Homo sapiens: one gene and its partners. The protein of the gene in region 1 interacts with the protein of each later gene in a pairwise test. Each region holds a gene or a part of one and is shown in the gene's direction. Other genes may lie near its edges. The genes, in order: ERH, UPRT, PSMA6 and TASOR2.

The links.
Region 2: the proteins of ERH (region 1) and UPRT interact in binary tests that used the Homo sapiens proteins (3 or more experiments, as listed by UniProt).
Region 3: the proteins of ERH (region 1) and PSMA6 interact in binary tests that used the Homo sapiens proteins (3 or more experiments, as listed by UniProt).
Region 4: the proteins of ERH (region 1) and TASOR2 interact in binary tests that used the Homo sapiens proteins (3 or more experiments, as listed by UniProt).

What each region holds. Positions count from the first base shown.
Region 1 is NC_000014.9:69,381,091-69,388,928, reverse strand, and holds part of ERH (enhancer of rudimentary homolog), read left to right. Parts: intron 1-1,845; coding exon 1,846-1,966; intron 1,967-2,591; exon of another isoform or gene 2,592-2,883; intron 2,884-7,838. UniProt on the Homo sapiens protein: May have a role in the cell cycle.
Region 2 is NC_000023.11:75,276,421-75,284,258, forward strand, and holds part of UPRT (uracil phosphoribosyltransferase homolog), read left to right. Parts: intron 1-7,838.
Region 3 is NC_000014.9:35,287,895-35,295,795, forward strand, and holds the start of PSMA6 (proteasome subunit alpha type-6), read left to right. Parts: upstream 1-4,487; 5' UTR 4,488-4,582; coding exon 4,583-4,658; exon of another isoform or gene 4,659-4,706; intron 4,707-7,901. UniProt on the Homo sapiens protein: Component of the 20S core proteasome complex involved in the proteolytic degradation of most intracellular proteins. This complex plays numerous essential roles within the cell by associating with different regulatory particles.
Region 4 is NC_000010.11:5,680,153-5,688,238, forward strand, and holds the start of TASOR2 (protein TASOR 2), read left to right. Parts: upstream 1-4,685; 5' UTR 4,686-5,023; intron 5,024-5,464; exon of another isoform or gene 5,465-7,263; intron 7,264-8,086.

The sequences.
Region 1 (7,838 bases):
TCACAATGTAGTATGCCAGTAGCAATAAAAAGCCCTAAGATAGTTGTTTAATAGTTCTGTGGTTGAATAGTGTTTTTATTAGGAAATTTATAAAGTTAATTTGGAGCTAATAAAAGGCTTATGTATACAGTATAGGACATGTTTTTTCTAGATAACTAGCATTTATGTCACTTAGCCATTCATCATAGTAGTCTTAAAATAGTTGACAGCGGGAATAGACTGAAAAGGTGTATTCTCCTTTTGTGGGAATAAGAAAGGAGAGTATCAGGCCGGGCACGATGGCTCAAGCCTGTAATCCCAGCCCTTTGGGAGGCTGAGGCACGCTGATCACCTGAGGTCAGGAGTTCAAGATCAGCCTGGCCAACATGGTAAAACCCCGTCTCTACTAAAAATACAAAAAGTTAGCTGGGTGTGGTGGCGGGTGCCTGTAATCCCAGCTACTTGGGGGGCTGAGGCAGGAGAATCGCTTGAACCCAGGAGGCGGAGGTTGCAGTGAGCCAAGATCTCATCATTGCATTCCAGCCTGGGCAACAAGAGCAAAACTCCATCTCAAAGAAAAAAAAAAGGAGAGTATTATTGAATAAAAACTAAATAGATAATATACTCTATAGCTAATTATAATTAGTAATGTGGGCTTGCTATTAATGATTTTGCTCATTATCTTTTTTATTATATTTAAGTACTTATATCCTTGTTCATGTGCTAATGCTTTATGTGTATTATTTCAAATAAACCTCACAATTCTATGAAGAGGCACTCTTAACTCTGTTTGACAGGTGTGGTTCAGGGAATGGCGTCGTTTGTCCTCGGTTTGACAGGGGCAGAGTTGGAACTAAAGTCTGTCTGAATCCATAGTCTAGGATTTTTTGTTTGTTTGTTTGTTTGAGACAGAGTCTTGCTCTGTCACCCGGGCTGGAGTGCAGTGGCCGATCTCGGCTCACTGCAATCTCCACCTCCCAGGTTCATGCCATTCTCCTGCTTCAGCCTCCCGAGTAGCTGGGGCTACAGGTGCCTGCCACCATGCCTGGCTAATTTTTTGTATTTTTTTAGTAGAGACAGGGTTTCACTGTGTTGGCCAGGATGGTCTCTATCTCCTGACCTCGTGATCCGCCCGCCTTGGCCTCCCAAAGTGCTGGGATTACAGGCGTGAGCCACTGTGCCCGGCCTAGTCTAGGATCTTAAATATACATTAGGATAATCTCTTTCCTTGTTGCCAATTTTTTTTTTTTTTTTGCTCTGTGGCTTTAGGAAGAATTACTGAAAAACCTGTTAAGACCCACAGTGTTATTTGTTTGAGCCATCAGATGGCAAGTCTTTAAAGCCCCTTAGCTCCAGTGGTTTGAAGTAATCATTTTATTATTAAGACACAAAATAGTTACATCAACATTGTGGTGAATTTCTCAGCTGCCCAGACTGGAGTGCAGTGATGCAATCACGGCTCACTGCAGCCAAGTGATTCTCCCACCTCAGCTTCCCAGGTAGCTGGGACCACAAGCACACGCCATCACGCCTGGCTAATTTTTTAATTTTTGTAGAGATGAGGTCTCCCTGTGTTGCCCAGGCAGGCTGGTCTTAAACTGTGGGGCTCAAGTGATGCTCCTGCCTCAGCCTCCCAAAGAGCTGGGATTACAGGCGTAAGCCACTACACCTGACCTGGTGAATTTATAAAATAAAAAAGTATTTGCTAGTGGCAATAATCAAAAGCCATCAATCTATCATCTTTTCCCCAGCCCAACTTTATTAAAGTAAATATGATATCAACATATAGCACAGCTCATAAGCACTGCTCATATCTAGAAGTGTATGCGATTGTAAGATTTTGCTTTTTTTCCTATCCTTTCTTAGGTGTTTGTAAAATGTATGAAGAACATCTGAAAAGAATGAATCCCAACAGTCCCTCTATCACATATGACATCAGTCAGTTGTTTGATTTCATCGATGATCTGGCAGACCTCAGCTGCCTGGTGTAAGTATTAGCCAACATGTCTTTTATCTTGTATTTTCTATTGCTTTTCTGTCTGTTTGAGGTGATTTATGGTATTGGGAGCTAATTATGTGCCTGATACTGATCTTTGCATTTGCATAGTGTATAGTAATTAATATTTCTCTTACAGAAATAAGAGATTGGCAACATAAAGCCAAAGGCACAGAAAAAAATAACTTTGCTAATTGATATAGTTAGTATCCAGAAAGGATCCTAATTCAGAAGTTCCATGTGCCTCTTCTTTGTTCCTTATACCTAATTTTTTTTTTCCTTTACAGTCTTTGTCTTAAAGCCATTGGTTTTGGATTAAAACTAAGATTATCTTTTTTTCATGACATTTCAAAAACTTAAATATGCGTATAGCTGAAATTTAATTTCAATCCTACGCTGTGTAAGTACGTATATTTTGGTATGTTAGAGTGAGATTTTTTAACATATTTGTTATAGTTTGTATTGATAATCTGCTTCTGACAATTACTAACAAGGAGCATAAAGTGTTACTGTAGACTTACCTAATCTTTTTTACATTAGCGAACAGAAATTGAGTGTAAATACAGCTCATTTAACCGAGGAAAATGGAAGCACCTTATGATACAATACTCAATCATCAGATACTTGAATATTTATTACATGTCAGGTGCTGTGCTAGAAGTTGAAAGAGCAGTGATGAGAAATATACAAGTCTTACTCATAGGCACTTCCTGGATCACCACTGGAGCCAATCATGGAATGTGGCTGCACCATGCTGTCTCCCCAAAAGTTCCAAAACACGCATTTCCTTGGGATGTTTGAGTTTTGTTTTCTGTACCTCTTCATTGTGTTCCGGTTGTAGCCATTTCACTTTGATCACTCAGAACATTCAAATGAATGTTGCATGGTACTTTAAGCCATTCAGACATCTATAGGAAAAACATACCAGACAGAGGGGATGAGGGACAGCTAGTGTAGAAGTCCTGAAGTAGGAGTGCCTAGCATGTTTGAAGTCATTAAGGAAGCCTTTGAGGCTGCAGAGGAATGAGTGAAGGAGAGTGTCTTAGGAGATTGGAGGAGCAGGGAGCAATGATATCCTGGAAGCCAAATGCAGAAGTGTGTCATATCATTGATAGGACAGATATGTGAGGACTGAGAATTTAATTGACCCCTGGATTTGACACTGTGGAAGTCTTTGGTGACTTCCAGAACGGTTGTGGTAGAGTGCCAGGAGTAAAATGCTTACAGATTTCAGTGTATGGAAGGGAATGAAAAGAGAGGATTTATAGGTGGCCATTACAGGCTTGCTTTTTTTTTTTTTTTCCTTTTTTTTATTTAAAGAATTTTGCTTGAAAGAACAGAAAAATGGGGTTGTAGCTGGAGAAAGAAATTGCTTTTTTTTAAGTGGGAAAAGTAATGGTAAGTTTGCAGGCTGATGGGATGATGTACCAGAGAAGGAGAAACTGATAGCTCAAATTGGCTCTTGGACAGTTCAATCATAAAAAAGGGAGGACAGGCAAATTTGGGAGCTGGGGGGAATTATCTTCTGTATGCTTCAGTTATCTCAGAAAGATAAGGAGCAAGGACATCATTTGAAACAGGTGTTACAGGTTTGTGGAAAAGTAAGAAATAAGCTAGGAAGGTGAAAGAATTAGGGAACTGCAATTAATTCAGGGATGCATTAAGTGTCCTCCAAAGTACCTATCTGATAGTGATTTAAAGTGAAATCAGTCATTGTGATCATGGGATTTTTTTCCTAGTCTCTCTCACCTGGATGGTTACAGGTGAGGAGTAGGTAGAGAGTAAAGATTTTGCTAAAGGTTGAGGGCATATATGAGGACAACAGCAACGACTGAATGACCATGAGCTTTAATTGGGGGTGTAGGAGGAGGTGCTGGAAACAGAGGTAGATCAGTTCATTGTAGGTCCCACTGGATCAAGGATTGCTCACATTAGAGTGTTAGGAAGTGGTGATCAGAGAATGACATGCTTGAAATTAGGAAATTGAAGTAGTTGGAAATGACAAGGTCTAGGGATCTGGCCAAGAGAGGGTAGGAGATGAGATCATTAGAGGAAAAGACTTCATGGAATTGGGAGGCCTAAGTGTTGACAGAATCATCCACTGGATATGAAATTACCAATAATGTGTATATTAATTGATAGAATTTAAGAAGAAGTTGCTTTGTGTTTGTTCACTGCTGCATCTCTGGTACATAATTAGTGCTGAGTAAATATTGGTTATATAAATGCACGTCACTTGTGTTGTTATTTGAGGAATAGCTTTCTAAAATTATTGATAATTTTCTATTTCCCTTATTTATATTACAGAGCTATATTCTGCATTGATTAAAAATTAATGGTTGTCTTTATGGTTTTATAAAAGAACCTTACTGAAACATTCAGGATGTAATCCTGACGCTTTTGGGATGTCATACTTACTCCCAGTAAGTGGGAAGTAAACTTGAAGCAAAGGATCATGTTTTACTTGTCTTGGGAGGCTGTGGTTAAGAGCTAGCTGGAGTGGCAGAATTAGACATAGCTGGGTTTGAATCCTGGGTCTACCATTTGCTAGCTCCCTTTGACAAGGCAGCTTTGTATTGCTAAACTTTAGTTTGCTAATTTGTAAAATTCAGACAAATCTAGTTCATAAGACTCCTTGTGAGGATCAAGTGCTTGCTGAGCACAGCATTATTAGATATGCAGCAACTCCCTTTTCAACTAGATTGAAGAAGTCAGGATAGAGTTTTATTTTTAATTACAAGCATGTTCTTAAATTTGCCAGGAGTAGAATGATATGAATTTTAATGTCTACGTGTGAGATAAATTATAAATTTCAAGGGAGATTTAAAAGGTGTTGAGGTTTTTTCAACAATATGAAAATTGAGCAGAGTAAAACAGTTACAAGTGACATGTTAATGATATACAAGTATGTCATTAATGACATAACATAACTTTTCTAACTTTGTACTAGACTTTATAAAAAAAAAATTTTAGAGACAGGGTCTTGCTATATTACCCAGGCTGGTCTCAAACTCCTGGGCTCAAGTGATCCTCCTTCCTCAGCCTCCCCAAGGAGTGATATTACAGGCATGAGCAACTGTGCCCGGCTGCATTAGACTTTAAAATGTAAACTAGAAACCATATCTAGCATACTAAACTGATTTTTAATACAATATTTGCTATATTAAAGCAACATAGGGGGAAAGCTTTAATTATTACCTAGATAATTCTTCCCACCTACAGTATTTCCAGAAATATAGAAGAGAGGTTAATGATAATTTATGGTTTTTTAGTAGTTTCAGAGTGTTAAAAACCGTAAATTATCATAGCTTGAAAACCTGTAACTATTTGTTTGTTTCTAATGTTGAAAATTTTTTGGCCTCTGAAAAACTTTCAGAATCAAATTTAGGATTTAAAACTATTTTCCCCAGGTGACTTTGGTTATGTCCTTTTTGTTCTTTGAATATTCAGGAGAAATAAGGTATTGTTTCCAAAGAGGTAACCCACTGCCACAGCACATCCTGTGATTTGGGCCGTTACTCCTCAGACCAGAGACTGGGTCCGTTTTTGGTTTGTAGATGGTTGTGTGCTCATAGTTTCTATTAAATTTACATGGCAGTGACCTAGGACTTTTTTAAATTAATTCTTTTTAAACAGCGTAGGTGGAAATGGAATAAATAAGATTCTACTTTGTAACATGACTAAACCCAGAGCAAACTGACCATGCATTAATAATAAAATGTAGGCATGAAAATTTGTATTTCGTATACTTAAAGTCAGAGTCAGATTTTTCCAGTTTTCTGATCTGTATGTTTTTTAAATAAGCTTTTTGTAAGATGAAAATAATGCCCTTTTGATTATGCAGTATTTTCTTGTTTGCTTAGAGACATAAAGAACATTTAAACTGTCAGTTATTATAATGACAAGAGGTATTCCTGATCAGTAAGAGAAGTTATCACTGAAGACATTTCTGATTTCACTGCCCAGACCCACAGCTTCTGTTCTTATATAAACCTACATTCATTGACCATAACAATAGGTTAAAAGATTCATCTGTGCCAATGACTAGGCATTTTATTAAAGTATTTAACATTTAATTGTCTCATTTTCAAGTGCCAGTTAACAGCCATCGACACACAGCTTTCCATAAAGAAGGCATTATTGCTTTTTTTTTTTTTTTCTTTTGGAGATAGAGTCTTGCACTGTCGCCAGGGTTCAAGCGATTCTCCTGCCTCAGCCTCCCGAGTAGCTGGGACTACAGGTGCGCGCCACCACGCCCAGCTAATTTTTGTATTTTTTTTTTTTGGTGGAGACGGGGTTTCACAATGTTGGTCAGGATGGTCTTGATCTCTTGACATTGTGGCCCGCCTGCCTCAGCCTCCCAAAGTGCTGGGATTACAGGCATGAGCCACTGGCACCTGGCCTACTATTTGATGAGTTGGAAAATTGCATGCAAGTTGATGGATTCCTTAATGTTCACAAACCAGAGTGATTTTTGTTGGGGGGAATGGTATAAACAAAGCCTGTCCCACCCAGATATGATAATTGTGAGAAATTTTGTTCCTTTTTAAGTTATTTTCCAGTGTTAATATAAATGTTATAGTCTCTTCTGCTACATTTTGCAGTAGACTAGCTTAGAGCTTATTTAATTAGGAAGCATGGACAAAGAGTTTTCAGAAAAAATTAAATTTTAGAATTTTTAAATTTGGTTAAGCATTTTTAAAAATGGGAATCTTGTACATTTTTAATAAACCAGATTGTGACCTTACTGTTCAGAGGAAGAATATGATGTTAATTGTATAAAGCATTCCTACTTTGGAATTTATTTCCCTTGCCAAAAATTGTAGTTTAGGTTTCTAACTTAGTGATTAACAGTGAGGACTCTGGAGTCAGGAGTATTTAAAATCTATCTCCAGTCCAGCATTACCTAGCTAATAACTTGCTTCACTTTTTAAAGCCTTGGTTTCTCATTTATGAAAAAGGAGGCCAGGTGCGGTGGCTCACGCCTGTAATCCCAGCACTTTGGGCGGCCGAGGCGGCTGGATCACTTGAGGGTCAGGAGTTCAAGACCAACCTGGCCAACATAGTGAAACCTGGTCTCTACTAAAAATACAAAACATTAGCTGGACGTGGTGGCACACACCTATAGTCTTACCTACTCAGGAGGCTGAGGCAGGAGAATCATGTGAACCCAGGTGGCAGAGGTTGCAGTGAGCCAAGATGGCACCACTGCACTCCAGACTGAGTTACAGAGTGAGATTCTGTCTCAAAAAAAAGCAGGGGTCGGTGGTGGGGGTGGTGGGAAGTGAGGATAATTGTACCTACTCACAGGGTTGTAAAAATGAGTTAATTCAGATAAGAATTTAAAGCGACACCCAGTACTCTGTGACATCTTACTAGATACTACTCACAGTCCCATTGGAGTTTTACTGCTAATGCTAGTCTGTGTACTCCTTTTCGTTCTGATTAGAGATATTTTGGAGCTTACTGTATCTTCTGATAATTCTTCTCCATAGGCCTCTAGCATTATTTATTTTAAAAAGCAAATCCTAAAATATAGGTTTAAGATTTCCTTAATACTTTACAGGGGGAAGGAAATTAGCAAGAAATCTTTGTTGCCAGTACATGTTTTTTAAAGGTTTTTTAGTTAATTCAGAATAAACATTGCAAATCTAAAGTTTGTTCTAGTATTGTTGTTTTTGTTTTTTTGAGATGGAGTCTCACTCACAGGAGTGCAGTGGCACGATCTCGGCTCACTGCATCCTCCACCGGTTGAAGCAATTCCCTTGCCTCAGCCTCCTGAGTAGGCAGGACTACAGGCGTGCACCACCATGCCCAGCTAATTTTTGTATTTTAGTAGAGACAAGGTTTCACCATGTTGGCC
Region 2 (7,838 bases), on another chromosome or scaffold:
TAATGAATCAATATTGAAAACTACTGTGGTTATGTTATCTAATAGACAAAATAGTGATCCTAAAAAATAGGAGGCATAGGTTTGCTGTAGTTGTGGTAGGGTAGGGGCAGCCAAAATAAATCTTACATATACAACAAAGAAAAATAGATGATGATTCTTGTTTCTATAGAGCAGAAGTTACTACGCTTGGGTCTTCGACTCCCTCGTACCAGTAGATGGGTTCAGGGCTTTAACAAACCCTCATAAATTAACTGGGAAATTTTACTCATATGAAGATTTTTAATAGTTGTTTTTAAATAACATCTTTATTGAGATATAATTCACAGACCATACAGTTCAAGAATTTAAAGTGTATAATTCAGTGGTTTTAAGTATGTTCACAGCTGTGCATTCATCACCACAGTTTTAGAACATTTGTCATCACCCCAGCAAGAAACCTCATGCCCATTAAACAGTCACTCCCCATTTTCACCCAACCCACCCAAAGCCCTAGACAATCATTAATCTACTTTCTATTTCTAATGGTTTGCCCATTCTGCACATTACATATAAAAAATGTCTATTCTGGACATTTCATTATCATACAATATGTGGTCATTTTGTGACTCATTTCATTTAGCATGTTTTCAAGGTTCATCCGTGTGGGATCTTTCCTTTTTATGATTAAATGATACTCCATTATATGAATATACCACAATTTGTTTATCCATCAGTTGGTGAACATTTGGGTGGTTTACCACTCTTTGGCTATTATGAATAATGCTGCTATGAACATTCACATATGTGCCTTTTTTTTTAGAGGGTGAGGATTCCTTAGTTTTTTAGATTTCACAAAGTGTCATGATAATGTAAAGGTGAAGTGCCCTTGCTATAGCGCTTGGAGAGGGAATGGCATTTAGCATTCACATATGACAAAATAATACCTGATTATATGTCATTAGTCAGAAAAACCTGGGTTATGTAGTAAACCTGGGTGTAAGTGGAATCCTTTTTTTTTTTTCCTCTAAGTTTGGAAGGAGACAGCAGGATCCAGAGAAGTGATTTAGGCAATATGTTTAGCATCTCTGTGCTTCACCTTTATCATTTGTAAAATGAAGATGTTGGTAAATATCACATGGAGCCCCTGGGAGGCTAAAACAAGATACTGTTCATGAATATTCATTATGAACTGTGAAGAGCTGTTCACATTTAAGGAATTTCAAGCCTCATGTTTGGATTTGTGCATGCTTCTAATTGCATTCATAAGTGCTGTCTTCTTGATTTGTCAGAAGACAGTAAAATGAATTTAACTCTATGTGGAATTCACTTTTTTATCTTGAAAATGAATACTGGGATATTGTAGATAATTTTTATCTTGTTTTGATATAGTATGGAAAGACCCACCACAATTTTTAGTAATGTATTGCTGCTTATTTAGGCTGGGGACATTGTTTTTAGTTTTGTTTTTGTTAACCAAATTAGAGGCTTTATATTCCCTTTATCTTTAAAAAATTGTCATCCTCTCTCACAAGACCTGTTTTAGCCCCTCTAGGAGGCTGGTTTAAGGTGCCTATGGTAAGAGGAGCTATATTTACATAGGTCTAGTTATGGAAGGTGCCATCAGTTATCATACCCTGTTCTCTTTGGGGCTTATTCTCTTCTCTATTTTGATGTGACAGCATAAATGTGCACTGTGGAACTGTCCGATAATAGAAGCCACTGGAGTACATATTTTTTCTTTTATTGTTTCTGGTCCTTAGCATCTATATAGTGAAGGGATTGCTTTGTGAATTGACTTTGGTATGGGGAAATCGGGATTGAGCCAGCAGGACTGCATGTTGTTGTATATATGTGAAACAGGCAAGATTGAGAACATTGTCTGTATTGATTTAAAATGTCTTTTTAGATTTTGAAATGTGCAATATTTGAAACATAATATGTTGGTTGTATTATTGAATTTCAAGGAAATAAATTTCTCTCTTTGAAAGTGCAGTAAACACTGAGTAGATTATTTGCTCAGCCATACGTATGTGGGTTGCTGGTGAACTTGGGATAAGAAAAAATTTCTTCATTTATGTCGTTTTGTTGTTGTTGCAATGGATTAAACCACACATCCTTCTCTTCTGCCTCCTTTATATACTAAACTCAGCAAAATCTGAGTAATGTGCTTTTCCTGTGAATATAGTTCATGACCTCATATTTAAAGGCAATGCAGTGTATTTAAAAGATCATCCTCCCTGTCCAGTTTTTTGTTTTTTATTTTTTGTTTCCTGAAACATTAAAGCTGTTGTGTGAGCTGTTGAATGCTTCCTGTGTATTTGTCCTAGGTGGGGCTTTGGCATGGCCTCAGCAAGCTGCTTGTTTAAAAGTTTAGCAATGTTAGAGTATGTCAGTATGTGACATAGGACAAAAAAAGGAGCACATTCAGCCTTGTGACTCTCTTTAGTCACCTGGAGGGGAGAAAATTATCCTTAGGGTGAATGAACATCCTGTGTAACCCTAATGTGAGTGCAATCTAATGTGATTTGAGTTATGTGACTAAGTAATGTATTGTCCTTAACCAAAGCTGTGTGCATCAGAATTGCCTGTGGAGTCTCTCTCTCTTTTTTTAAAATACAAGTTCCTGACTCCCATCCTTAGCAGTTGTTTGTATAGTCTTGAGTAAAACCTGACCACAGGTAATTGTGCTGTGTTTAGACTGGGCCATTGCCCCTGGGAGAATGGCCAGTCTCCCTTGTGTGCTGATTTGCTAGCCTGCTGATTCGGGCTATAGATATGGTGATCCAGGGATTCCACACACTAAACAGAACTAGGCTAGAGAGCCTGACCTAGCATTACATCAACACTGGAGGAATCTCCCAACATTTCCTTCCAGCTTGCACAAAACCAAAATGCCCACCGCAGAAAAAAACTGTGACGTGCAAATTGTTTAAAACATGGACATATTTTCGGTTTTTGTGTGTTTCCCGTGTGAGTCCTCTGACTTTTAGAGCAGGAAGGAGGAAGTCACCACTAAGCTATACGGACCTCTGTTATAACATTTACTGGGCATATCCTGGTATACCTAACTAGACTGGACTCCAAGGAGGCAGAAAGGGGGTCTGACCTGGCACAGTCCCTGACACAAAGGATAATTAATGTAGCAATTGTAATCAGATAAAATGATAGTTTCCCTTGTTTTTCTGTCCCATTTTTTTGCAATAATTTCAACATTTGTTTTATTTTTTTAAAGCTTTCAGGTTTCACTTATTTATTTTTTTCCATAAGTTATTGGGGTACAGGTGGTATTTGATTACATGAGTAAGTTCTTTAGTGGTGATTTATGAGATTTTGGTGCACCCATCACCCAAGCAGTATACACTGCATCATATTTGTAGTCTTTTATCCCTTGACCCCCTCCCACCCTTTCCTCCCAAGTTGCTAAAGTCCATTATATTATTCTTATATCTTTGCATCCTCATAGCTTAGCTGCCACATACTAGTGAGAACATATGATGTTTAGTTTTCCATTCATGAGTTACATCACTTAGAATAGTAATCTCTAATCTCATCCAGGTCACTGCAAATGCTGTTAATTCATTTTTTTAATGGCTGACTAGTATTCCATCATATATATATATTTGATATGTATTCCATCATATATATATATTTGTTGGCCATTTGTATATCTTCTTTTGAGAATTGTCTATTCATGTCCTTAGCCCACTTTTTGATGGGATTGTTTGTTTTTTTTTTTCTTGCTGATTTGTTTGAGTTCCTCGTAGATTCTGGATATTAGTCCTTTGTCAGATGTATAGATTGTGAAGATTTTCTCCCACTATATGGGTTGTCTGTTTACTCTGCTGACTGTTTCTTTTGCTGTGCAAAAGCTCTTTAGTTTAATTAAGTCCCAGCTATTTATCTTTGTTTTTATTGCATTTGCTTTTGTGTTCCTGGTCATGAAATCTTTGGCTAAGCCAATGTATGTAAGCCAAAGTTATCTTCTAGAATTTTTATAGTTTCAGGTCTTAGATTTCAGCCCTTAATCCATCTTGAGTTGATTTTTGTATAAGGTGAGAGATGAGGATCCAGTTTCATTCTCCTACATGTGGTTAGCCAATTATCCCAGCAACATTAGTTGAAAAGGGTGTCCTTTCCCCACTTCATATTTTTGTTTGCTTTGTCGAAGATCAGTTGGCTATAAGTATTTGGGTTTATTTCTGAGTTCTCTGTTCTGTTCCATTGGTCTTTGTGCCTATTTTTGTACCAGTGCCATGCTGTTTTGATGACTGTGGCCTTATAGTATAGTTTGAAATCAGGTAGTGTGACACTTCCAGGTTTGTTCTTTCTGCTTAGTCTTGCTTTGGCTGTGTGGGGTCTTTTGTGGTTCCATATGAATTTTAGAATTGTTTTTTCTAATTCTGTGAAGAATGATGGTGGTATTTTGATGGGAATTGCATTGAATTTGTAGATTGCTTTTGGCAGTATGATCATTTTCACAATATTGACTCTACCCATCCATGAGCATGGGATGTGTTTCCATTCATTTGTGTCATCTATTATTTCTTTCAGCAGTGTTTTGAAGTTTTACTTGTAGAGGTCTTTCAACTCCTTAGGTAAATTCCTAAGGATTTTATTTTTTTTGGCAGCTATTGTAGAGGGTTGAGTTCTTGATTTGATTCTCAGCTTGGGTACTGTTTGTGTATAGAAGAGCTACTGATTTGTGTACATTAATCTTGTATCCAGAAACTGCTGAATTCTTTTATCAGTTCTAGGAGCTTTCTGGAGGAGCCTTTAGGGTTTTCAAGGTAAAAGATCATATCCTCAGCAAACAGTGACAGTCTGACTTCCACTTTATCAATTTGGATGCCCCTTATTTCTTTCTCTTGTCTGATTGCTCTGGCTAGGACCTCCAGTACTATGTTGAAGAGGAATGGTGAGGGTGGCATCCTTGTCTTGTTCCAGTTCTTAGAGTGAATGCTTTGAACTTTTCCCCATTTAGTATTATGTTGTCTGTGGGTTTGTCATAGATGGCTTTTATTACATTAAGTTGTGTCCTTTCTATGCTGATTTTGCTGAGAGTTTTAATCATGGAGGTATGCTGCATTTTGTTGAATGCTTTTTCTGCATCTATTGAGATGATCCTGTGATGTTTGTTTTTAATTCTGTTTATGTGGTGTGTCACATTTATTGACTTGCATACATTAAACCATCCCTGCATCCCTGATATGAAACCCACTTGATCATGGTGGATTATCTTTTTGATGTGCTGTTGGAATTGGTTAGCTAGTATTTTGTTAAGGATTTTAGCATCTATGTTCATCAAGGATATCAGTCTGTAGTTTTCTTTTTTGGTCATATCCTTCCCTGGTTTTGCTATCAGGGTGATGCTGGCTTCATAGAATGAATTAGGGAGCATTCCCTCTTTCTCTGTCTTGTGGAATAGTGTCAAAAGGAATGTTTTCAATTCTTCTTTGAATGTCTCATAGAAGTCTTCTGTGAATCTATCTGATCCTGGACTTTTTTTTTGTTGGTAATTTTTAAATTACCATTTCAGTCTTGCTGGTTGTTATTGGTCTGTTCAGGGTATCAAATTTTTCCTGATTTAAGCAAGGAGGGTTGTATTTTTTTCAGGAATTTATCCATCTCTTCTGGGTTTTCTAGTTTATGTGTGTAAGGGTGTTCATAGTAGCCTTGAATGATCTTTTGTATTTCTCTGGTGTCAGTTGTAATATCTCCTGTTTCATTTCTTAGTGAGGTCATTTGGATTTTCTCTCTTCTTGGTTAATCTTGCTAATAGTCTATTAATTTAATTTATCTTTTCAAAGAACCAGCTTTTTGTTTCATTTATCTTATATTTTTTTTTTTGCTTCAATTTCACTTAGTTCTGCTCTGATCTTGGTTATTTCCTTTCTTCTGCTGGATTTGGGTTTGGTTTGTTCTTGTTTCTCTAGTTCCTTGAGGTGTGACCTTAGAATGTCAGTTTGTGTTCTTTCAGTCTTTTTGATGTAGGTGTTTAGGGCTGTGAACTTCCCTCTTAGCACTGCCTTTGCTGTATGCCAGAGGTTTTGGGAGGTTGTGTCATTATTTGGGAGGTATGTGTCATTCAGTTTGAAGAATTTTTAAATTTCCATCTTGATTTTGTTTTTGACCCAGTGATCATTCAGGAACAGGTTATTTAATTTCATGTATTTGCATGATTTTGAAGGTTACTTTTGGAGTTGATTTCCAGTTTTATTCCACTGCGGTCTGAGAGAGTGCTTGATATAATTTCAGTTTTCTTAAATTTATTCAGGCTTGTTTTATGGCCTATCATATGGTATGTCTTGGAGAAAGTTCCATGCACTGTTGAATAGAATATGTATTCTGCAGTTGTTGGACGAAATGTTCTGTATGTATCTGTTAAGTCAATTTGTTCCGAGGTATAGTTTAAATCCATTGTTTCTTTGTTGACCTTCTGTCTTGATGACCTGTCTAGTGCTGTCAGTGGAGTACTGAAGTCCCCCACTGTTATTGTGTTGTTGTCTAACTCATTTCTTAGGTCTGTTAGTAATTGTTTTATAAATTTGGGAGGTCCTATGTTAGGTGCATATATGTTTAAGATTGTGATAGTTTTCCATTGGACAAGGCTTTTCACCATTATATAATGTCCCTCTTTGTCTTTGTTAACTGCTGTTGCTTTCAAGTTTGTTTCTTCTGATATAACAACAGCTACTCCAGCTCGGTTTTGGTGTCCATTTGCATGAAGTGTCTCTTTCCACTTCTTTACCTTACGTTTGTGTGAGTCCTCATGTGTTAGGTGAGTCTCCTGAAGGCAGCAGATAATTGGTTGGTGAGTTCTTATCCATTCTGCGGTTTTGTATCTTTTAAGTGGAGCATTTAGGCCATTTACATTCAATGTTAGTATTGAAATGTGAGGTTCTGTTGCATTGATTGTGCTCTTTGTTGTCTATGTACTGTTTTTTTTTGTTTTTAGTTTTGGCCTTTTACCTGTATTTTTGTTATATAGGTCCTGCATGATTTATGCTTTAAAGAGTTTCTGTTTTGATGTGTTTCCAGGATTTGTTTCAAGAATTAGAGCTCCTTTTAGTGGTTTTTGTAGTGGTGGCTTGATAATGGTGAATTCTCTTAGCCTTTGTCTGAAAAAGGCTATATTTTTCCTTCATGTATGATGCTTAGTTTTGCTGCACACAAAATTCTTGGCTGATTTTTTGTTTGTTTGTTTGTTTGTTTGAGGAGGCTGAAGATAGATAGCTCATAGCTTGTAGGGTTTCTGCTGACAAATCTGCTGTTAATCTGATAGGTTTTCATAGGTTATCTGGTGTTTTTGTCTCACAGCTCTTAAGATTCTTTCCTTCATCTTAACTTTGGATAGCCCGACGAAAATGTGCCTAGGCTATGACCTTTTTGTGATGAATTTTCCAGGCATTCTTTGTGCTTCTCATATTTGGATGTCTATGTCTCTATCAAGGCTGGGGAAATTTTCCTCAATTATTCCCCCAAATGTGTTTTCCAAGCTTTTAGAATTCTCTTCTTCCTCAGGAACACGGATTATTCCTAGGTTTAGTTGTTTAACATAATCCTAGAATTCTTGGAGGCTTTGTTCATATTTTCTTATTCTTTTTTCTTTGTCTTTGTTGGATTGGGTTAATTCAAATACCTTGTCTTCAAGCTGTCAATTTCTGTCTTCTACTTGTTCAATTCGGTTGCTGAGACTGTCCAGAACATTTCCCATATCTAAAAGTATGTCCAAAGTTTCCTAAATTTTTGATTGTTTTTTCTTTGAGCTATCTGTTTCCTTGAATATTTCTCCATTCAGTTCTTGTATCGTTTTTGGATTTCCTTGCATTGGGCTTTGCCTTTCTCTGGTGCCTCCCTGA
Region 3 (7,901 bases), about 34 Mb from region 1:
CATATTCACGAAGTCGGCTTCCAGGGGATTTCCCTTTGAATGGAATTGGCAAACGTTTTGTCTTTCTGAAAGATTTCCCAGAGGAATTCATTTAGCTATGTGGAAAAATCTCAAATTCTAATATAAAATCTCTGACCTTTTAGGGTTTTGAAATTTGGATCTCTCATTTACTGACAAATCTTTTTGAATAAAGAAAAACAATTAACATAATAGAAAACCTAAACAGTGAGAATGCATATTCAACAAATGATTGGAGTGCTTACCTCAGGCTAGGCACTGTTTGGTATTGAGGATACACTGGTGAACAAAACAGATGTGGCTAGTTGGGCATGGTGGCTCACGCCTGTAATCCCAGCATTTTGGGAGGCCGAGGTAGGCGGATCACTTGAGGCCAGGAGTTTGAGACCAAACTGGCCAACATGGCAAAACCCTGTCTCTACTAAAAATGCAAAAATTAGCCAGGCGTGGTAGTGCACACCTGTAATTCCAGCTCCTTGGGAGGCTGAGGCACAAGAATCACTTGAACCCAGGAGACGGAAGTTGCAATGAGCCGAGATCGTGCCACTGCACTCCAGCCTAGGCGACAGAGCGAGGCTCCATCTCAAAAAATAAGCCAAAAACAACAACAACAACAACAAAAACAGATGTGGCCACCACCCTCAAGGAGCCTGATTTTTAATCCTAGCTTTCAATTTATGTTTGTGTTGAAAATGAGGTTGATTCCTTCCAGGAAGTATCCTTTAGAGTATTAAAATATATACACCATCCAAAATCCTATGCCCAGCTTAAATACCATACCACAAGAGGGGATGAAGATTTGTTTGAATGTGTGAAATAATTCTCATAGACTGCAGGGTGCGTAATATGTGTGATTTGAAATATCCCATCACAGGCCAGGCATGCTGGCTCACACCTGTAATCTCAGCACTTTGGGAGGGCAAGGCAGGAGGACTGCTTAAGCCAAGCTTGTCCAACCCATGACCTGCAGGCTGCATGTGGCCCAGGATGGCTTTCAGTGTGGCCCAACACAAATTTGTAAACATTCTTAAAACATTATGAGATTTTTTTGCAATTTTTTTTTTAGCCCATCACTTATCATTAGTGTTAGTGTAGTTTATGTGTGGCTCAAGACAATTCTTCTTCCAATGTGGCCAGGGAAGCCAAAAGATTGGACACTCCTGGCTTGAGCCTAGGAGTTTGATACCAACTAGTAACTGTCACAAATGAATTTAAATTCAGGTTTAAATAAAAAAGGATGAACTAACTCCCACACCATTAGGGATTCATTCATTCAACTAATATTTATTGAGCACTTAATATATGCTGGTTATTGTTCAAGTTGTCTGAGCTGTATCAGTGAACAAAACAAAAATCCTTGCCATCACAGAGGTTAAATTGTGGGTGGGCATGAGGGACAATAAACAGTGAACAAATTTATGATTTTTTTTTTTTTGAGACAAGGTCTCACTCTGTTGCCCAGACTGGAGTGCAGTGGCATGATCTCAGCTCACTGCAACCCCCACCTCCCAGGCTCAAGCGATTCTCCTGCCTCAACCTCTCCCGAGTAGCTGGGATTACAGGTGCACACCATTACTGCATGGCTTTTTTTGTTGTTGTTGTATTTTAATAGAGATGAGGTTTCACCATGTTCGCCAGGGTGGTCTTTAACTCCTGACCTCAAATGATCCACCCACCTCAGCCTCCCAAAGTGCTGGGATTACAGGTGTTGCACCACGCCCAGCCTAAATTTATGAATTATATAACAGAAAGAAAAAAGATACTCAGGAGGCTAAGGCCAAAGGATCCCTTGAGGCCAGGAGTTTGAGGCTGGCCTGGGCAATACAGTGAAACCTAGTCTCTAAAAAAAATTTTTTTTAAACTAGCCAGGACTGTTGGTGTGCAGCTGCAGTCCCAGCTCCTTGGGAGGCTGAGGCCAGAGGATCACTTGAGCGCAGGAGTTCAAGGCTGCAGTGATCATGCCACTGCACTCCAGTCTGGGTGACAGAGCAATACCGCATTTCAAAAAAAAAAAAAAAAAAAAAGGCAGAATAGCAGAGCAGGAACAAATGAAGGCAGAGGGGGAGAAGTATTAAGAAATTAAGACTGCTACAAAGTTTTGGCTCTGAAGACTTGGAAAATGTGGTACAAGGGGCAGGAATTCGCTTGAGAGGGAATAGATGAGATAAGGAGTTCTCTTTCAAACGTGGGGTTTTGAGGTGCCATATGTCTCAATGTGAAAAATATCCCATTGGCAATTAGAGAAGATCCAGTTCCAGAGAAGGGTCCAGCTAGAGACCTAAATTCAGGAGACATCAGTATAGAGCCAGCTGTTGAGGCTGTGAGACTAAGTTCATCCTCCTAGCAGCCTTACCGAGAACTCTGACTATGCAGGCAAACAGTAGGAATTACAGTATACCAGGCTCTTTCAGAGTCTGAGAAGACAAAAGTCTTCAAAAGGTCAAGAGGAGTTGGTCCTGAGAGTAGGGACCTGAACCAGAAGCAAGGGAAAACTTTTATCAGTCCACTTGGGAACTAGCCAGTGCTGGAAAGTACCCTTTGTGCCAGAGATGCTGTATGCATTTACCGTTTTCTTAACCATGTTTCAGTTTGGGATTTTTTAGATTAATAAAATAGAAATTAATTTTTAAAAACACTTGAGAAATTGGAATTCCCTTATGAAGGTCTTAGAACATTTTTTCTTTAAAATAGAAAGTTAGTTTAGGAAATACATTAAAGGAGTAAGAATCCCTACTTCAGTATTACAGCAGGCATTACAGTGCCACAAACATTAGTGTATCTTGCCTTCCTTGTACACAAACCATCTTTATCTGGGGAGAAAAACAACTATCCTAACATTATGTTTTGCATTTTGTATTCATTAAATGGGAGTGTGCCTTGGGGAAAGTCAAAATAGGCACAAATTTGCGATTTGAAAAGCCACCTGCTCTTCTCCCGGAGCTACCTCGCCAGCTTGGAATTACTCTCATTAATCCATGCAACACTAGCTGCTCTAAGCCCCATCCCCTCAGCTCTAGTTCATTATTAATCAAGGGTGCTTAACCTCATTCCCCATTACTCGTATTTCAACCTCAGTTCCACATTTTTTTTTTTTTATTTAGATAGATCTTCCTCTGTCGCCCAGGCTGGAGTGCAGTGGCGTGATCATAGCTCACTGCAACCTGGATCTCCTGGGCTCAAGCCATCCTCCCACCTTAGCCCCCCGAGTAGCTGGGACTACTGGCGCGCGCCACCACGCACAGCTAATTTTATTTTTTGTAGAGACGGGGCCTTCCTATGTTGGCCAGGCTGGAGTTAGGCTTTCTTTCTTTTTTTTTTTTTTTGAGACGGAGTCTCGCTCTGTCGCCCAGGCTGGAGTGCAGTGGCATGATCTCGGCTCACTGCAAGCTCCGCCTCTCCGGTTCACGCCGTTCTCCTGCCTCAGCCTCCCAAGTATATGGGACTACAGGCGCCCGCCACCACGCCTGGCTAATTTTTTTTGTATTTTTTAGTAGAGACGGGGTTTCACCGTGTTAGCCAGGATGGTCTCAATCTCCTGACCTCGTGATCCGCCCGCCTTGGTCTCCCAAAGTGCTGGGATTACAGGCGTGAGCCACCGCGCCCGGCCTCCGCTTTCAAGACTAAAAATTGCCTGGGCACTGTGGCTCAAGCCTGTAATCCCAGCACTCTGGGAGGCCGAGGAAGGTGGATCACTTGGGCTCAGGAGTTCGAGAGCTGCCTGACCAACATGGCGAAACCCCGCCTCTACTAAAAATACAAAATTAGCCGGTCCTGGTGGCACACGCCTATAATCCCAGCTACTCGGGAGGATGAGGCAGGAGAATCGCTTGAACTCAGGAGGGGGAGGTTGCAGTCAGCCGAGATCGCGCCATTGCACTCCAGCCTGGGCAACAAGGGCGAAACTCTGTCTCAAAAAAAAAAAAAAAAAAAAAAAAGACTAAAAATTGTCGGGGCTGCTGGCCAAAAGAAGATCTTGCCTGGCTGTCAGAAAATAATGTTCTTTCCAGCGGCTGCTTGAACCCGCTTCCTTCAGTGCCTAAATTTAACGGCTGCAGCTGCAGCTGCAACCTGTTTCCCCCGTAATAGGAATGAAAGTGGAGGATAAAAGAGGTTAGGAAGAAGGCAAGCCAGCAGTCTGACCAGACACAGGATGCATGTAAGAGACTTGTTAATTACACGTTCTATTTAGGTCACACTGATAGGCAAATCGCTATTCTGGGCCCCCAGGAAGCCTTTTCGTCCTTGCTATAGTCAATTCATTCTCCAGATGAAAGCCTGAAAGCGCCACGACCCAAGTTTCACGTCTATCCACTCAAGAGGCCTGCTTGGCGCAGGCGCATACCTTCAAAGGCCTCCCGCCCTCACTCCACCACCCCCTTAGGGGGCGGGGCCTCAGAGCTCAGTGCTCGAACTGGCTCCAGAGCCGTGAGTTCGGCATGCAAGAGCGGAAGAAACGCGGCTGGTACCCCGGAAGCAGTCGCTGCAACTTCCGGGAGGTGCTTGTGTGCCTGGTGCGGGAGCTACGGGGCCCAGGGATTGTGTTTAAAGTAGTGCTTCTACCAACATGTCCCGTGGTTCCAGCGCCGGTTTTGACCGCCACATTACCATTTTTTCACCCGAGGGTCGGCTCTACCAAGTAGGTGAGTGAACCAGGTTCGCCTGTGGGCCACCTGAATTGCCCTGTCATGGTACGTGCCTGGAGCGAGCAGACGCGGCCCGGGTTTAGTCTGGGGCCGAAGCTGGGCTGGAGCTGGGAAGGGAGAACGGCTGAAGCTGGATTGAGCTCTGTGGTGTTTGCACCCCCGTCTGGACGCAGGGATCGGGGGCCTGAAGGCCTGTCTCTGCAGGGCGAGCGGCCACACTGCGTAGACCCAATGGAGAGTTAAGGAAGATAGGGCTGTAATGCCTGACTCCGGCTTCGTGAGGCCCCTTCAGTTATTGTATTCTGTCCTGGCCAGGCACAAGGTCTGTTTCTAAAGGGTAATTGATTCCTTAACGTCTCAACTAAAATGCCTCCTCTCCGTTTTCCTTTGTTTGCAGCATGGACTTCTGTGGTTAATTCCACACAGGCACTCGAAGCCTGCTATATACCAGACACTGCTAGTCCTAGGAGATACAAATGTGAATGTTACACCCTCTTCTATACTGAAGCTCACAGCTTAGAGTGACAGATACGTTAAACAAACGGATAAAAAAAATTAAAAGTGCCAATTTACAAATATCTACAGAGTTCAAGACATCTTTGGGAATCTGATAGAATGAGTGACTCAATTCTAGAGCTGCTCTTGAGATTGGCATCCCCTTTTTACCCACATCTGTTTGAATGCTCCTGTAATTTAAATGCCGATTCTGAGTTGTAGATGAGGTACTGTGTACTAGTTTACTGAAGAACACCTGTAGTGGAAAGAAACTATCAGTTACTCGGAATAGTAATGTATTGCGCTGAAACGGTGTCAAGGTTTAGGTTATGATTATAAGCCAGACCCTTGATCTCTTACCATAGAGAATTTAGTGTCAGGAGGGCTTGATTTACATCTGGTCCGTGATGGTTTTATTTTTGAATGAGTTTAGTGGCTCCGTGTCTTGCACAGTAATATAATCATCTGTGCTTGGAATCATAAGGAGAGAGTTGGTCTGTAAATGAGGTTCTCTTCACCTGTAAATTTTAGAAATAGAGTTAAAGATAACTTGGAATGAAACTGCTCAGTGTATTACTGCATAGTGTATATAATGTAGCAAGAAACATCTTGTTGGATAATTCAGTAGCCCTTTTAATTTATCCCCAATTGAAAAACATGATTAAAGATAGAACAAAGAGATAACTGTATCCTCAAAGAATTTTCATTTATTGTATTAAATTCCTGAGTTTTAAATAATTTTCGTATATTAGACTACTGCTTTCAGCGTTCCATTCGTGATTTTTAATATGTGAACAGGAAAAGTCACTCTGAGACCTTTACTTTGTTTCTATATACTGTATTGTGAAGTCCAGCCATAAAGCATAATCGTTAATGCTTCCCAGATTTGGTGAGTGGAAAGGCTGAACACAGTGTCATTGTGATGGTTTTAAAAGATTTGGAAGAGAACATCTATCTGAAAACAAGTTCATTATCTAGACAGAATGATTTTTTATTTATTTTTATTTTTTTGAGACAGAGCTTCACTCTTGTTGCCTAGGCTGGAGTGCAATGGCGCGATCTCGGCTCCCCGCAATCTCCGCCTCCCGGGTTCAAGCAATTCTGCCTCAGCCTCCCAAGTACTGGGATTACAGGCATGCGCCACCACGCCTGGCTAATTTTGTATTTTTAGTAGAGACGAGGTTTCTCCATGTTGATCTCGAACTCCCAACCTCAGGTGATCCACCCACCTCGGCCTCCCAAAGTGCTGGGATTACAGGCGTGAGCACCGGGCCTAGCACCAGCCTAGACAGAATGATTTTAATCTCTGTGAATAACACACTCCCTCTGCTATTCAGGGCATTAATTAGACATTGTTAGGAAAATGAAAGTGAAAGAGTAGTATGAGCAAGCAGTATAGTGAAGAGTTCAGGCCCTGGAGTCATACATGGATTCAAATCTCTGCCCTGCTCCATACTACCTGATCTGGGCACTTGCCAGGTATGTAACCTTAGCCTTAGTTTCTCTTTCCAAAGTTGGGCTCATAATAATTCTTCCTTAAATGGTGGTTTTGAGAATTAAATAAGGCAATGTATGTAGAGTGCTTAACGTGTGCCTGCCACATAGTAAATGCTCAGTGAATGTTATTAGATGCTTGTTTGATTCTTTGGCCCCCCCTTTTTTTTTTGGTCTATTAGATTAGTAGCTCTGTATGGAATATTTCCCTTTTTATGGGTCCTTCCATGCTTAGTTCTCCAGTAAAATATATACATAATCATAATATTCTAAATACTGTCTGTTTGTAAACTTTAGAATCCTCCAAAGACAAAGCATGGAAGGATTATAGGATGCAAGTTGTTAACATTGACAGTAGGAAAATAATATTTTAAAAATGGGATGATGATGAGGGGAGATTAATGGAAGGTAACTATGCTCTTTATCTTCCATACTTGGGACTCAAAAGATAAATGTCGTCTAAAGTTGATATATCAAAAAATAGAGGTAGACATTTAAAGTTATAATGCTTGGCCAGGTGCAGTGCCTCACACCTGTAATCCCAGCACTTTGGGAGGGCGAGGTGGGCAGATTACCTGAGGTCAGGAGTTGAAGACCAGCCTGACCAACATGGTGAAACTCTGTCTCTACTAAAAATACAAAAAACTAGCTGCTTGTGCTGGCGTGCCTGTAGTCCTACCTCCTCAGGAAGCTGAGGCACAAGAATCGCTTGAACCTAGGAGGCAGAGGTTGCAGTGAGCCAAGACCGTGCCATTGCACCTCCAGACTGGGTGACAGAGCTAGACTCCATCTAAAAAAAAAAAAAAGTTGTAATGCCAATCATAATTATAAACATACTTTATAATTATTAATAACATATTATTGGCAGTGTTTGCTCCCAGGGAGTGGAGAGAAAGACTTTTTCTTTTTTTTTTTTTTCCCTTTGAGACAGAGTTGCGCTCTTGTTGCCCAGGCTGGAGTGCAATGGCCGTGATCTCAGCTCACTGAAACCTCCACCTCCCAGGTTCAAGCGATTCTCCTGCCTCAGCCTCCCAAGTAGCTGGGATTACAGACATGTGCCACCACTCCTGGCTAATTTTGCAGTTTTAATAGAGATGGGGTTTCACCATGTTGGTCTGGCTGGTCTTGAACTCCTGACTTCAGGTGATCCACCCACCTCGGCCTCCCAAAGTGCTGGGATTACAGGCATGAGCCATTGCGCTCGGCCTGAAATATTTCTCTTAATGTACATATGCAGGTTGTATGTGTGTG
Region 4 (8,086 bases), on another chromosome or scaffold:
GGTCTTTATAGGTCTATATCTACTAAAGATATAACATCCTGCACTTAAAAACCTTGCTATAAAAAACACAGGCCCTGATTGTTTCACTGATTAATTATATTAAACATTTATGAAGAAATACTGCCAATTTAAATCAAAGTATTTTGAAAATTAAGAAAGAAAACTTCCCAACTCATTGGATGAGGCCAGAGTTACCTTCATACCCAAACTGAAGACCTCACAAGAAAAATAAAACAAAAACATAGACCAATATCTTGTATGAATACAAATGCCAGAATCCTTAACAAAATATCAGCAATTCATATCCAGTATAATATATGAAAAGGATAATGAATCCAGAATAAATTGGGTTTATCTCAGGAATTCACTGTTGATTTAACATTTGAAAAATCAATTGATGTAATTCACCATATTAGTAGATCAGAAAAGAAAAACTATATAATCACCTCAATAGATGCAGAAAAGTATTTGACCAAATTCAACACCCGTTTATGAGAAAAACTTTCAAAAAGTAGGAACAGAAGGGAAATTCATAAATCTAAAAAAGGGTACAAAACACCAAAGCTAACATTATGCTTAATGGTTACAAACTAAATGCTTTTGCACTAAGATGAGAGACAAGACAAGGATTTTTTTTTTTGAGTCAGGGATATTTTATTTCACTCCTTATATTGAACATTACATTAATGGAATGGCCTTGATGCAATAAGGAGAAAAGAAATACGAATTAGAAACAATGAAGTAAAACTATTTTTATTTGCAGAAAATGTCCTAAAAAAGCATAAAGAATGCACACATGTGCAAACAAATAGCTACTGGATATAATAAGTGATTTCGGCAAGCTACAAGATATAAAGTTAATATGGAAAAATCAATTTTATTTCTATATACTAGCAACAAATTATTGCAAAAATTTTTAGTACTATTAAGAATAACATCAAAAACAAAGAGATAAATATGACAAAATATGTGCAAGAGCTGTACACTGAAAACTATAAATATTGCTGAAGGAAATTTTTAAAGACCTGAATAAGTAGAATTTGACAATTAGTAAGATGTTAATTCTCTCCCAGATTGATATGTACATTCAGCACAATCCCAACCAAAATCCCAACAGGTTGTTTTTGAGGTAGAAAATAAGCTGGTTCTAAAATGTATACAGAAACTTAAAAGACTTAGAATAGATGGGCCGGGTGCAGTGACTCATGCCTGTAATCGCAGCAGTTTGGGAGGCCGAGGCGGGTGGATCACCTGAGGTCAGGAGTTTGAGACCAGCCTGGCCAAAATGGCGAAACCCCATCTCTACTAAAAATATAAAAAATTAGCCAGGCGTGGTGGCAGACACCTGTTATCCCAGTTACTAGGGAGGTTGAGGCAGGAGAATTGCTTGAACAGGGGCTGGGGGTGGGGGGCGGAGGTTGTAGTGAGCCAAGATTGCACCACTGCACTCTAGGCTGGGCAACAAGAGTGACGTTCCGTCTCAAAAAAAAAAAAAAAAGACTTAGAATAGCCAAACATACTTGAAAAAGAACAACATTGTATACTATGCAAATTCAAACCATGACACACCCTTCAGAGTGGCTACAATTCAAAAGTATTGGCAGGGATGTAGACGAACTAGAATTATCTTTGTGGAACTGTATAACTTAGTAAAACCAGCTTGCAAAAAGTTTGAAATGATCTGCTAAAGTTGAACATATGCCCTTGTTATTGCCACAATAATGCCCTATAATAAATCACCCCAAACTCGGTTAGCTTTTGATAACAGCATTAACTTTCAGAATCCTTGATCTTCAGGATGTCTAAGGCTCTGTTAATCCAAAGTGTGTTGGACTGTGGGTTGGTGTCACATCTGTTCCACATAGGTTTGTTCTGGAGACTCAGGCTGAAGAGACAACAGCTACGCGAGATATTTTCTCCACATATGAATCACCTGAGCACAGGAGCCAACTCAAACAGCACGAGCACACTGAAGAATCCTGCTGTGTCATGTCTGCTGATATTCTATCAGCCAAAAGACCTCTCTTAGACCAAGCCCAACGTCAATGAAGTAGAGAAGGAAACTTGGCCAACCGTGGGGAATAAGGGCATAAATATTTGCAGAAACAAAAATCTAAATTATCATGTCTAGCATTCCAAAATCCCAATCCTAGGTTTTCATCCAACAGAAATGAGTGCCCATGTACACCAAGAGATGTAAATGAGAATGATCACAAAAGTATTATTTATAATAGCCAAGAACTGGACACAGCCCAAATGTCCATCAATAATACAATGGGTAAAGCAAATGTGTTACATTCACGCCTACATATACAGCAATGAAAACGAAAGAACAAGTACACCCAAAAACACAGTGAGTCTCACAAGCAGGCACAAAATTATTCACTTTATATACAGTTCAAACCACAAGCAAACTAAATGATAAAGTTTCAGGGTGCATATTTAGTTGGCAAACTTACTTTTAAAAGCAAAGAAGAGAGTACCATGGAAGTCAGAATAGTGCTTAGGCTAGGGAAGAGGGATGGGGTACTGGCAATGTTCTATTTCTTGATGGGGGTGTTGGTTTCATGAATATTTGCCTTGTGATAAATCATGGAGTTGTACATTCCGGTTTTGTGCACTATTAAAATGTTGTTGTACTTCACTCTCTACTTCCACAGTCAGCCTTCTTCTGTTCTTGAATAGGTTTCATTTCACTTCTCAAGTCCTTTGCACTTGCTTTCCCTTCTGCCTGGAAAGCTCTTCCTCCACGTATTCCAAGCTTTGGTTCTATCAGTTTTGATCTTTAGGGTTTGACCTCAGATGTGCCCATTTCAGTAAGATCTTGTAGCTCCACTACTTCTGCCCTTGGCCTCCAGCCCCCAGTCCCATCCACTAGCATTTCCAGTGAGTTTTCACAGCATGTATTGTTATCTGAGATTCTATTTTCTTGTCGTGGTGATTTACCTGTGTTTGTCACTCACCTCTGGAATAAATTCCATTATAGGCAGGGTCCTTATCTAGCTTGTTCATGATTGTAAAACCAGTGTCTATTACAGCACCTGGTTACAGTAAACAGTAAACACAATGACTGAATCTCTTGGTATTACCAGCACAGTGCTTGACTCATGATACATGTTCATTAGCACTTAATCTCTCTCATTGGTACAGTCATATGTCACTTAATGTTTCAGTTAACAACAGACCACATATCCAACAGTGATCTTATATGATTATAATAGAGCTGAAGAGTTCTATTGCCTAGTGATGTCGTAGCCATCTTAATTTCGTACAGCAACACATTACTCATATGTTTGTGGTGATGCTGGTGTAAATGAATCTACTGCACTGCCAGTCATATAAAAGTACAGCACACATGGCCAGGCGCAGTGGCTCCACCGTAATCCCAGCCCCCCAGTGGGACAAAATGGAGGTGAAGACAATGATGTTGATGATCCTGACCCTGTGTAGGCCCAGGTTAATGTGTGTTTGTGTCTTAGTTTTTAACAAAAAAGTTTAAAAAGTAAATTAAAAAAATTTTTAAATAGAAAAAAACTTACAGATTAAGGATATAAAGAAAATATTTGTGTACAATGTGTTTGTTTTAAGCTAAGTGTTATTACAAAAGAGTCTTAAAAAGTTTTTTAAAAGTTTTAAAAAGTTAAAAAGTTACAGTAAGCTAAGGTTAATTATGAAAAAATTTAAAAAAATAAATTCAGTGTAGCTTAGGTGTACAGTGTTTATAAAGTCTACAAGAGTGTACAGTAATGTCCCAGACCTTCACATTCTCATTGCTCACTCACAGACTCACCCAGAGCAACTCCCAGTACTGCAAGGTCCATTCGTGAGAATGCCTTACACAGGTGTACCATTATTTTTCATACTGTATTTTTATTGTACCTTTTCTATGTCTAGATATGCTTATACAAATACTTACCATTGTGTTATAATTGTCCACAGTATTCAGTACAATAACATATAGCATGGGTTTGTAGCCAGGAGTAATGGGCTATGGCTTATGGTGTAAGTATGTAGTAGGTTATGCTTCTAGGTTTCTGTGATGTTCACTCAAGGACCAAATTGCCTAATGAGGCATCTCTCTCATAAGGTGTCCCTACAGTTAAATGATGTTTGCATGACTATTTATCATGGGCAAGGGTAAACCTGAATTTATTGATGGTCACCTTAGCTCTCTGTGCATGTGTTATAAATTTCTAGAGATGCTTTCCTAGGGGGTAACAGCCACACCTACTATATGGATTAAAACAAGGGCAAAATTTCCAAAATGTCGCATTCGGGCCAGACAAATAAACTGTTCTTGCAGCAGCACCTGGGGAATGAAACGCTGAGAAGGGAGAAGGCGCCCGAAGGCGACCACGTGGGCCACAGCCACAGCACTGTAGGTCAGCCGAGAGAGCGTCTCCCGCCTCTTCCCAAGGGCATCTTCCGCCTCCTGTCAAGGGTCGGCAACGCGAGACACCACGCGCTCGTTGGGATCGGCCGCCTAATCAGGAGCGAGCTGTGGCCTTACGCCTGCGCAGAGGGGAGACGCGAGCGCCGCGTGGACGCTGACCTCGGTCCGCGCCTGCGCCTTGGTTTCTTCCCGGCGATTGGTTCCCATCTCTGAGGGAGACGCCTCACTTCAGTTTTCACTTTCTTTTTTTGCCCCCCCCTCCCCTTTTCTTTTCCTTTGGCCGCGAGGTTTTGCTTCCGGTTGCTAGCGCCGGTCAGAGAGAAAGTCGGCATGTTCTCGCAGGCTGCCGGGCGTCCCGGGGTTGCCTCTTGCCCGTGACCCTGACGGGAGACAGAGCGCGGGCGGCCGCGGCGTCCCTGTCAGCGCCCGCGGCGAGGACCCCGGGGCTGGGGCGGACGGCGTGCCCCTGAGGGGGGTCCCCGCGGGAGCGCGGAGCCGGCGACTGGTGCTTCCCACGTGCGCCGGTGTCGCGAGGGCCCGGGAGGACGCAGAGCACGGCCGGGAGAAGCATGGGAAGGAGGCCGAGCCGGGATCTCAGGTCCTCGGGGGCGGCGGCCACGCCAAGGACGGGTAAGTCCCTCCTCGGCCTGGGCGCCCGGGAACCCTGCGAGGAGGACGGCGGGTCCCCGAGGCCGAGCGCTCGGGCAGCTGCCGGGGCTTGGCTGCGAGGGTCGACGCGTTCTCCTTGCCTTTTGCCGCGCTCCGGGTGAGGGGGTGGGAGGGGTCGGCGCCTTCTAGATGACTCAACCTTCTGTCCTGCGCTACAACCTGTGGCCGCGCTCGGTGTCGCCGGCAGGGAGATCCTAACCGTGTCATCTTGCCCCTTTCTGAGGCGTTTCGTTTGCGTCGCCTGTCAGGGGACAGCTGCGTCCTCAGGGATATGCTGATAAGTTCTTGGCTGAAGTTTCCGTCTTCGGGTTTGCACCGGCTGGGAAATCATTTCCTGCGGGTTCTGCGTGAAGCCTGCTGCTACTCGAGACTTCATGGCAATGCGCCACCTTTTCTTTTTAGGGTAAAACAGGTCTCTCCGAAGGGAGGGTCATTTCAGCAGCAAGCGCAAGCCGCGTTGGGATAACTTGGTGCGAGCAACACAGAAGTTTGTCTGAAGGCGGCGCCAAGCAGCGTTTCGTGGGAGAACTGGGTTGATGACTGAAATTTTGAGGAAGATTACTTTGGGAATTCTCAAGTTTCTCTTAGTCGCTTCTTGTCTATTTGAAATCTGTAACTTTAAACAAACCACGCTTACTCTTCCTTATTCTCCCTGTAAGGTACAATTAGAATAGAAAAGTTTATGAAAGTGTATCCAAAACTTAAATATGTGGCGTACAAGTGTATGGTATTATTGGAATGGCATTCGCGATCCTAGAGTCTACAGTGTTCCCTGAATAAAACTAGGGGTGAGCCTGGCGGTAATCCTGCCTAGGAGGTTTATAGCAAAGCAGTGTCCCCTAACGGTGCAAGAATACCCTTCTGTCGAAAAACTGCCTTATAGGAATGGGTGACTGTATGCGGTATGTCCTGTACTGTACATCAATAAATAACTAAGCCAGGCCAGAAAAAGGGTGACAAAAGGTCCACAATTATGTTAAGGAAGACCAAGACGGTATATTTGAAGTTTTGTGTATACAGAACATTTGCCCAAATGTAACTAATTTTTTTAAAGGGAGATTATAAGCATCTCCTGTGGTCCAAACATAGTTGTTAAAATGGGTTAAAATCGGTGAAGTGCCTAAGAACTTGACTGAGACATGGTGTTTGTTAAATACAGTATACTATCTATTCAGTAAAAATAGATCAATATGGCATGTATTTATCAAGTGAATTTCATTTTTCTGTTGGTAGACATTCAAGTTATTTTCAAGATATCCCTATAACTGACAATACTGCAGTGATTATCTCTTGCTGTTATAAACAGTGCTTCAGGTGGTCATGATAGTATTTCTGTAGAATTGACTCCTTATGAGAGTGCTGGATAACCATGTTGCTAAATTGCCCTGAAATGATTGTACCTTTTTATGTTCACTCGCTCAAAAGATGTGTTTTTATCTCCATGCTAGCCAGCACTGGATGATAATGGTATTTTTAAAATATCTTAGCCACCTAGTAATTGAAAGTAACATTCTGTTTTAATTTTTATCTTCCTTGGTGAATACAAAAGTTAAATCTTTTTAGGCAGGTCATATCATTTGCTGATGTTTTTATTGAGTCTGAGCTCTCTTTTCTTTCGCCCATGTAACTATTACTGTAGCATTTTAATTATCATAGTTTTATAATATATTTTGGTACTTTCTTTTGAAAAAGAGCTTTGGGTTTTTCTTTTGCATTTTTTCTTCCAGAAGAAATTAAAACTATCTTTTTAAGTCCTATAGAAAATCTTGGGATATTGTTTGTGATGGTGTTGAATATATAATCTGAGAAGAGACATTTATTTGAGTTTTTCCTTCTAAGAGAATATGTACATCTCCCTTTTCTTTAAAAATTTTTTATTGTGAAATATGTCATTAATATGTACTGACAAAGCGTATCTGTGTAATAAATATGCTTTTTGTCAGTACATGTTAATGGTATATTTCATAACAAAAATTAATAAAAGCTTTAGAAACTTTAGTTAGTTTGGAAACCTTTTGTGTGTTTCTACCCCAGGAGGAATGCGTTCCCTGCCCCCCGTTACCCTGGCCATTATTAATTTTGTGTTAATTATTCCCTTGCCTTTTTAAACAGTTTTATCACCTATATAGATATCCTTAACTAGCATTGTTTACTCTTACCTGTTTTTGAACTTTATTTAAATAAAGTCATTCTGTATTCTATGAGTTACTTTTGTTAAACATTGTTTCTGAGATTCACTCATGTTAAAGCACGTGCCTATAGTTTAGCAATTTAGAAACTTTATTCCCAGGACCCCTCTACACTTTTTAAGAACCATTGAGGGGGCCAGGTACGGTGGCCCACGCCTGTAATCCCAGCACTTTGGGAGGCCAAGGCAGGTGGATCACTTGAGGTCAGGAGTTAGGGACCAGCCTGGCCAACATGGTGAAACACCATCTCTACTAAAAATACAAAAATTAGCCAGGTGTGGTGGCAGGTGCAGGTAGTCCCAGCTACTCGGGAGGCCGAGACAAGAGAATCACTTGAACCTGGGAGACAGGTTGCAGTGAGCCAAGGTTGTGTCACTCTACGGCAGCCTGGGTGACAGAGTGAGACTCCGTCTCAAAAGACTGCTGAAGATCCCAAAGATCTTTTGTTTATTGGATTATATCAATTGATAATTACCGTATTAGATATTAAAACTGATAAATTTGAAATGTATGTTTATTTATTGGTACCTTTAAATATAATAACCCATTACATCTTAACATATTTTATCTCCCCAAAATTAGTGACAAGAATGGGATTTTTGTACATTTTTGCAAATACGCTGAAGGTCTCCTTTAATGACTAGAGTCTCATCTGCTTTTGTATTCATTGTGTTGCCATGTATTATTTTGGTTGAAGTGCATGAAGAAAATCCAGCGTCATTCAGCTGAGTAGTTAGAAAAGAGATGAATATTTTAATAATCTTTTCAGATGATTATGTTCTTTTTTGATACTCATCAAAACCTAACAGTTTTGTGTTTTTGTTTCTGTTTTGTT